Linked DNA regions of Homo sapiens. The protein of the gene in region 2 purifies or fractionates together with the protein of the main gene of each other region. This does not show direct contact. Each region holds a gene or a part of one and is shown on either strand. Other genes may lie near its edges.

The links.
Region 1: the proteins of KLHL26 (region 2) and VSIG10 fractionate together in Homo sapiens (co-fractionation; one large-scale study listed by BioGRID). This does not show direct contact.

Annotation. Positions count from the first base shown.
Region 1 is NC_000012.12:118,076,307-118,080,117, forward strand, and holds part of VSIG10 (V-set and immunoglobulin domain-containing protein 10 precursor), read right to left. Parts: intron 3,301-3,811; coding exon 3,040-3,300; intron 1,675-3,039; exon of another isoform or gene 1-1,674.
Region 2 is NC_000019.10:18,643,528-18,647,338, reverse strand, and holds part of KLHL26 (kelch-like protein 26), read right to left. Parts: intron 2,702-3,811; exon of another isoform or gene 2,673-2,701; intron 1-2,672. UniProt on the Homo sapiens protein: May play a role in endo(sarco)plasmic reticulum (ER/SR) mitochondrial signaling. May be part of the ubiquitin-proteasome system (UPS) and affect ubiquitination and degradation of target substrates in cardiomyocytes.

The DNA.
Region 1 (3,811 bases), on a different chromosome or scaffold from region 2:
TGAATGTGAGGACATTTTTGTTTATCTGTGTGATGGATATCATGAAAATTATGCACGGTCCCTTTTTTTTTTTTTTGGCTCATCACCTATCGTTAGTGTTAGTGTTTGTGTGAAATACATTCCCATGATCAAATTACCTCCCACCAGGTCCCTCTGCCAATATTTGGAGTTACAATTCAACATGAGATTTGGGTGGGGACACAGAGCCAAACCATATCATGGTGTTTCGCTGTGTTGCCCAGGCTGGTCTCAAACTCCTGGGCCCAAGCAATATGCCCGTCCTTGGCCTCCCAAAGTGCTGGGATTACAGTCATGAGCTACCACATCTGACTGATCCTGGCGCTTCTGATCTCTCTTACCTTTCCCTTTTTTTTGTTTTGAGACAGAGTTTCACTCTGACACCCAGGCCTGGAGTGACCGCTCACTGCAGCCTCAACCTCCTAGGTACAAGCAATACTCTCACATCAGCCTCCCCAGTAGCTGGGATTATAGGTGCATACCACCATGCCCAGCTACTTTATTTATTTTTTATTGTTTGTAGAAACAAGGTCTGTGTTGCCCAGGCTGGTCTCGAATTCCTAGCCGTAAGCTATCCTCCTGCCTCTGACTCCCAAAGTGCTGGGATTACAGGCGTGAGCCACCACGCCCGGCCTTCTCCCTTCTTACAAAGAAAGACATCAGTCATTGGATTACAGCCTACTCTAATCCACTATGACCTTATCTTAACTTGATTCCATCTGCAAAGACTCTTTCTGAATAAAGTCATATCCACAGGTATTAGGGTTTGGACTTGAACATATCTACTGGGGGGACACAACTGAACCCCCAACCTCCACCCAGCTTTATCAGTACTTTACACACGATGCCCCGGCCACACTGGTCTTCTCTCGGGTCCTCAAATGCCAAGTTTGTTTCCACCTCAGGGCCTCTGCGTTTGCTGTTGCCTCTGCCAGGAACACTCAGCCCACGGATCTTCACCTAGCCAGCTCCTTCTCATTCTAAGGATAGATTATTACCATCTCACGGAGACCTCCCTGCCACCCTAGGAAAAGTGCCCCTCTTCTTATAAAGGCCTCCCTTTTATATATACCATTTTATTATCCTCATATTATCATCATATCTGGACCTATCTTACTTGTTTTTGTACTTTCTGTCTTCCTTCTACCCCCATGCCACCCAGAATATAAGCTCTGTGAAAGAGGAATGTTTGTGGTTTTAATATGTACAGACATTCTCTGACACTCCTCCCTTCAAAAAGTGGTGCCTAATTCTTCCCAGCCCTCTTCAATGTGGGCTGGACTTATTTCTAAGACACAGAGTGTGGCAGAAGGGATCCCATGTAACTCCTGAGGCTAGGTCATAGAAAGGATAGCATCAGCTTGACTCACTCCATTTTGGATCATTTGCTCTGAGGGAAGCCATCTGCCATGTTGGAAGGACACTCAAGCAGCCTTATGGAGAATCCCACATGGAGAAGAAATAGTTGCCAGGCATGGGAGTGAGGACTTCAAAAGTAGATCTTTCAGATGATTTCAGCCCCGCAACCTTCAATTCTTCCGGCTGACACCCCAGACATACAGAGCCAAGACAAACCATCCCCAATGCCCACTGTGCCCTCTCTGAATTCCTGACCCACAGAAATCATCAGATAATAAATGGTTATTCTTGTTTTAAGCCACTATGTTTGAGAGTAATTTGTTACATAACTAGAAGCTATAGTTTGAATGTTTGTCCCCTCCAAATCTCATGTTTAAATTTGATCCTCAGTGTTGGAGGTAAGGCCTAATGGAAGGTGTTTGGGTAAGTGAATTCTCATTCTATTAGCTTACTGCAAAAGTAATTACAATTTTTGTCACTATTTTCTTTTTTTGAGATGGAGTCTCACTCCATCGCCCAGGCTGGAGTGCAGTGGTGCGATCTCGGCTCACTGGAAGCTCCGCCTCCTGGGTTCACGCAGTTCTCCTGCCTCAGCCTCCCGAGTAGCTGGGACTACAGGCATGCGCCACCACGCCCAACTAATTTTTGTATTTTTAGTAGAGATGGGGTTTCATCATGTTGGCCAGGCTGGTCTCAGACTCCTGACCTCAAGTGATCCACCTGCCTCAGCCTCCCAAAGTGCTGAGATTACAGGTGTGAGCTACCACGCCCAGCCACTGCTGGTTGTTAAAAAGAGTTTGGCACCTCCCTTCTCTCTCTTGCTTCCTCTCTCACTATGGAACTCTGCATAAGCTGGCTCCCCTTTACCTTCTGTCATGAGCAGAAGCAGCCTGACGCTCTCACCAGAAGCCAAGCAGATGCTGGTGCCATGTTTCTTGCACAGCCTACGGAACTATGAGCAAATAAAGTAATTTTCAGCTAGGTGCGGTGGCTCACACCTATAATCCCAGCACTTTAGGAGGCCGAGGCAGGTAGATCACTTGGGGTCAGTTCGAGACCAGCCTGGCCAACATGGTGAAACCCCATTTCTACTAAAAATACAAAAATTAGCTGGGCATGATGGTGCACGCCTGTAGTCCCAGCTACTCAAGAGGCTAAGGCAGGAGAATTGCTTGAACCTGGGAGGCAGAGGCTGTAGTGAGCCAAGATCATGCCACTGCACTCCAGTCTGGGCAACAGAGCAAGACTCTGCCTAAAAAAAAAAAAAAAAAAAAAAAAAAAAAAATTTTCTTTATAAACTACCCAGCCTCAGGTATTCCTTTACAGCAACAGTAAATGGACAGACACAAAAGACGATGAACCTCATATGTCTTGTTCACTGCTCCATCCTCAGCACGTAGAAACTGTACCTGGCACATAGCAGGGGTTCAATTAGTATCTGTCAAGTGGAAAATAGCTGGGACTAGAATGAAGAAGCTTGAGCTAAGCATCTCTAAAATTTGAAAAAAGTGAAACATAAAGAAAAAGAAAGGGAGAAAGGGAAGGAATTCAGTCCACCCTGACATCCGGGGATTTCTTCCTCAGAAGAACTCTCAAATGCTTCTCCTAGGAGAAAGGAAGGCAGGGAAACTCCAACCCCAAGACAAAGCAAAACAGACTCACTGATCTGCACCATGCAGCTGGCGCCCGACTCTGGCCCAACTATGTGGCTTGTAACACACTTGAACTTCTTGCCATCCGACAGCTGGGACTCGCTCAGCATTTCCACCCCCAGCTTTGACTTCCCCACGATTACACCTCCTGGCTCTTCTATCCACAGGAAGTCAGGGTCAGGGTATCCCCCATCCCAGCGACAGGTAAGCTGCAACATGAACGATCCTGATGCCATCTGTGCCCAGCACTGGGGAGCTGATGGAGGGGGATCTGCAAAACACCAGAGGAAAGCATGGGCTGAATCACAGACTCTAGGATCAGCCACTGGACTGGCTCTAAGGATGGCAGAACCAGGGTCTCAGAGGGACATCAACCCCAGTTAGTGTTAGCATCTAATAGCTCCTAGCACAAATTCATGCCTGACAACAGTCAGGCTTCCTCTGTTGGGTGTTAAATTTCCGACCTGGGTCTCATTCACCTTTGCATTTCTTTCTTTCTTTCTTTCTTTGTTTTTGAGATGGAGTTTCACTCTTGTTGCCCAGGCTGGAGGGCAGTGGTGCAATCTCGGCTCACTGTAACCTCGACCTCCCAGGTTCAAGCAATTCTCCTGCTTCAGCCTCCCAAGTAGCTGGGATTACAGGCATGCGCCACCACGCCCTGCTTATTTTTATATTTTTAGTAGAGACAAGGTTTTGCCATGTTGGTCAGGCTGCTCTTGAACGCCTGACTTCAGGTGATCCACCTGCCTCAGCCTTCCAAAGTGTTGGGATTATAGGCGTGA
Region 2 (3,811 bases):
GCAGGGGCTCCCTGGAGATGGTGCGATTATGGCGGAGGGTAATAAAGCCTTTCTTCCCCGGTAACTACGGACAACGACAAGGAGGCCGTCCCGGGGGTCACAGCTACCAGGTGGAAACAGTCCAGCTGTGACGATCGCACTGCACGATTCAGGTTGAAGTGAGTGCTTTCAGAGCAATTCCACTCCCAGAGCTCTTGGGACCTGCCGACAAGGAGGGGAGGAGAGGGTGGCCTCCTTCCCAGAGAAGGGGCTCAGCTGTGAGGGGCAGATCGAGTGGCCTGGATGTGGCTCGGCCTGTGGGCCAGTGCCCTTCTTGGGCTGGCCCAGTTCCACCTGCCCCCATCCCTGCTGAGACGCGCCACCCCCCGCCGCCCCTGCCCCCGCCCTGCCGAGCTCCTGCTCCCAGGCCTACTCCTGGCGGAACCTGCCCTCTCCAGCTCACGCTGGACGTGCTCTACTCTCTCGCTGCCCCTGCTGCTGTCCCTCTTACGGCCCAAGTCATGGCACTACTGTCTTCCCAATGGCTCAAGTTCACCCTCTCCTTTCCCTGCCTGACACACGCACGCCACATCAAGGCTTGCTGGCATTGACGATCCCCTCAAGGCCCATGCGGGCATGGCGGGCAGAAGGATGGCAGTGTCCCCATCATGGGCGTCAGCACTGCCACAGTAACACTGATGAGGTACATGTGACCTCTCCCCACTCGTTTCCTCCCAGACACCCCCCACCTGGTGGGCCTGGAGCCCCATTTCCCAGATGAGGAATCTGTCACAGCCACAACCCATAAAGAGGGAGCCACAGTCACCCATGGGTATGATGAGACACCTCATGCCGCCATATCTGACCACATTTTCCAGGAGAAGGACTTGAGTCCACGTCTTGGAAGGGTCAAAATCCTCCTTCTGAAAGGGGCATGAGGCCGGGCGCACTGGCTCATGCCTGTAATCCCAGCACTTTGGGAGGCCAAGGCAGGTGGATCACCTGAGGTCAGGAGTTCGAGACCAGCCTGGCCAACATGATGAAACCCCATCTCTCCTAAAAATACAAAAACTAGCCAGGCATGGTAGTGGGCGCCTGTAGTCCCAGCTACTTGGGAGGCTGAGGCAGGAGAATCACTTGAACCCAGAAGGCGGAGGTTGCAGTGAGCCAAAATCATGCCACTGCACTCCAGCCTGAGCTCAGAGTGACGTCAAAAAAAATTAATAATAATAAAAAAGAAAGGGGCAAGAGGCCAAAGGAATGAGAACTTCCCCAAAGTAGCAAGAACCTCCTTGGGAAGCCACCTCTTCCCCTAAGTCTTCCTAGCAGGAGCTGGGGGGCTGGACCCTTCCAAGGCCTCTGGGCTTGGTGGAGATGATCTAGATTGTGGAGAAAGCTTCAACAGGCAAAGGCCACCCAGCCAGACTGACTGTGACAAACCCACCGGGCGCAGCGTCTCGGCCACAACTTTCCATGCAAACACTTTCAGCAGGCAGCAAAGCCCCTGGGCACAACGTCCCAGCCATCACTTCTTTTTTTTTTTTTTTTGATACAGAGTCTCACTCTGTCGCTCAGGCTGGAGTGCAGTGGCAGGATCTCGGCTCATTGCAACCTCCTCCTCCCAGGTTCAAGCGATTCTCCTGCCTCAACCTCCAGAGTTGCTGGGATTAAAGACGCCCACCACCACACCTGACTAATTTTTGTATTTTTAGTAGAGAGGGGGTTTCACTATGTTGGCCAGGCTGGTCTCAAACTCTGGACCTTGTAATCTGCCTGCCTTGGGCTCCCAAAGTGCTGGGATTACAGGAGTGAGCCAAAGCACCCAGCCTAGCCACCACTTCTTATGCAAATGCCTGAAGCTGGCACATCCCTCACCCAGATCCCCCCACCTCACCCCCAGGAACAGCATGACTCAGTGAGCCTGGGCCCTACCCAGGCGTCTCCAGGGAGCGTGGGCCAAAAAGCGTGGATGCCAAAGGCCCATGTCGGAGAGGCTGCAAGGCCAGAAGGTTCCTCCAAAACTCTGCCGGTCAGGTACCTCACAGTGACAGAATTTTAGCTGGGGAGGTGCGACTCCCCAGAGGGTTTGCCTCCCCTTGCGACACCCCAAGTGGCCCAAGCCTCCTTTCCCTCCAAGGAGTCTAGACCCCGCGGCCCGAGCTGGGAGGAGGCCAGCTGGTGAACAAGTGTCCTTTGTGCTTGCAGCAAGGACCCCACCTCCTCTCCGCACACCCCAGCCAGGGCAGCCCCACTCTGTCCATCCCTGAGGTTCGGCTCAGTCATTAATGACCACCTCTACTAGGCAACGGGTTTTTTGTTGATCCCTCGAGATAGGAAGGAAGGAGAATAAGCTTTTCTCTTTCTTTTTTCCCCCTCGGTTGCAGAAGACAGAAGTTGGAACAAACAAGTTATATAACGTTGGGGGCGGTCGGGGGTGGGGGAGCGCAGTCCCTCCTGGGGACAGTTTCTTGAGTTGTGGTACCGCTGGAAGGGCCAGGGGGAAGACAGGAACTGCCCCCGCCCCTGGCCAAAAGACAAAACCTTCGTGGGACAAAAAGGCAGATGCGGGCGTTGCCTGGCAGGCTAGAAAGGCAGCTAGAGACTAAGGCCAGCCCCCACTGCCCCCCAGCAGCCCCACAAGCCTCACTGGAAAGGCAAAAGATCGACCTGATCCCATAGAAGGGAATTCCTACCTGCCAGACTGCAAGCCTCAGAGAGCAATAAGCTTTTGCACACCCCCATCCCTCCCTTCCTCCCTCTCAGCCACGTCTCTGGGACACTTCCTCCTTCTGTGTCATTCATGTTCCAGGCACACAAGAGGGCACAAGAGAGACAGGCTTTCCAACCTCAAGGCACCAGAGAAACACAACAAATAACGTTAGGTGGTGACCAGCATGATCAAGAATATACAACAAGCATGCGCCCCAGCAATTCTGCTCCTAGATGTGTACCCCAAAGGACTGAACATGAGTGTTTAGACAAAAATGTGTACACTCATGTTCATAGCAGCATGATTCATAATAGCCAAAAGGTGGAACCAATCTAAGTGTCCATCAACAGATGAATGGATGATGTGGTGCATCCACACAGTGGAATATTACTCAGCCATAAAAAGGAATGAAGTGCTGATTTAGGCTACAACATGCATGACCCCCAAAGCATCATGCTGAGTGAAAGAAGCCAGACTCAAAAGGCCACATAGTGCATGATTCTACCTATAAAACTTGAAAACGGATAGAGACAGACTGCAGATTGGTGATTGTCAGGGGCTGGGCAATGGAGAATAGGGGGTTAGTGCTAATGAAGATGGGGTCACCTTTTGCGGGGACAAAGATGTTTTGGAACTGGACAGCAGTGATGGTTGCACAATTCTGTGAATGTACTAAATGCCACTGAATTGTTCACTTAAAGTGGGTGAATTTTGTGTTACATATATAGTACCTCAAAAACAAAAAACAAAAATACAGGTTGGGCATAGTGGTTCATGCTTGTAATCCCAGCACTTCGGGAGGCTATGGCAGGAAGATCACTTGAGCCCAGGAGTTCAAGACCAGCCTGGGCAACATAATCAGACCCCATCTTGGCCGGACACAGTGGCTCATGCCTGTAATCGCAGCACTTTAGGAGGCCAAGGTGGGCGGATAACCTGAGGTCAGGAGTTCGAGACCAGCCTGACCAAGATGGAGAAACCGCATCTCTACTAAAAATACAAAATTAGCCAGGCATGGTGGCACATGTCTGTAATCTCAGCTACTCGGGAGGCTGAGGCAGGAGAATCGCTTGAACCCAGGAGGCGGATGTTTTGGTGAACCGAGATCATGCCATTGCACTA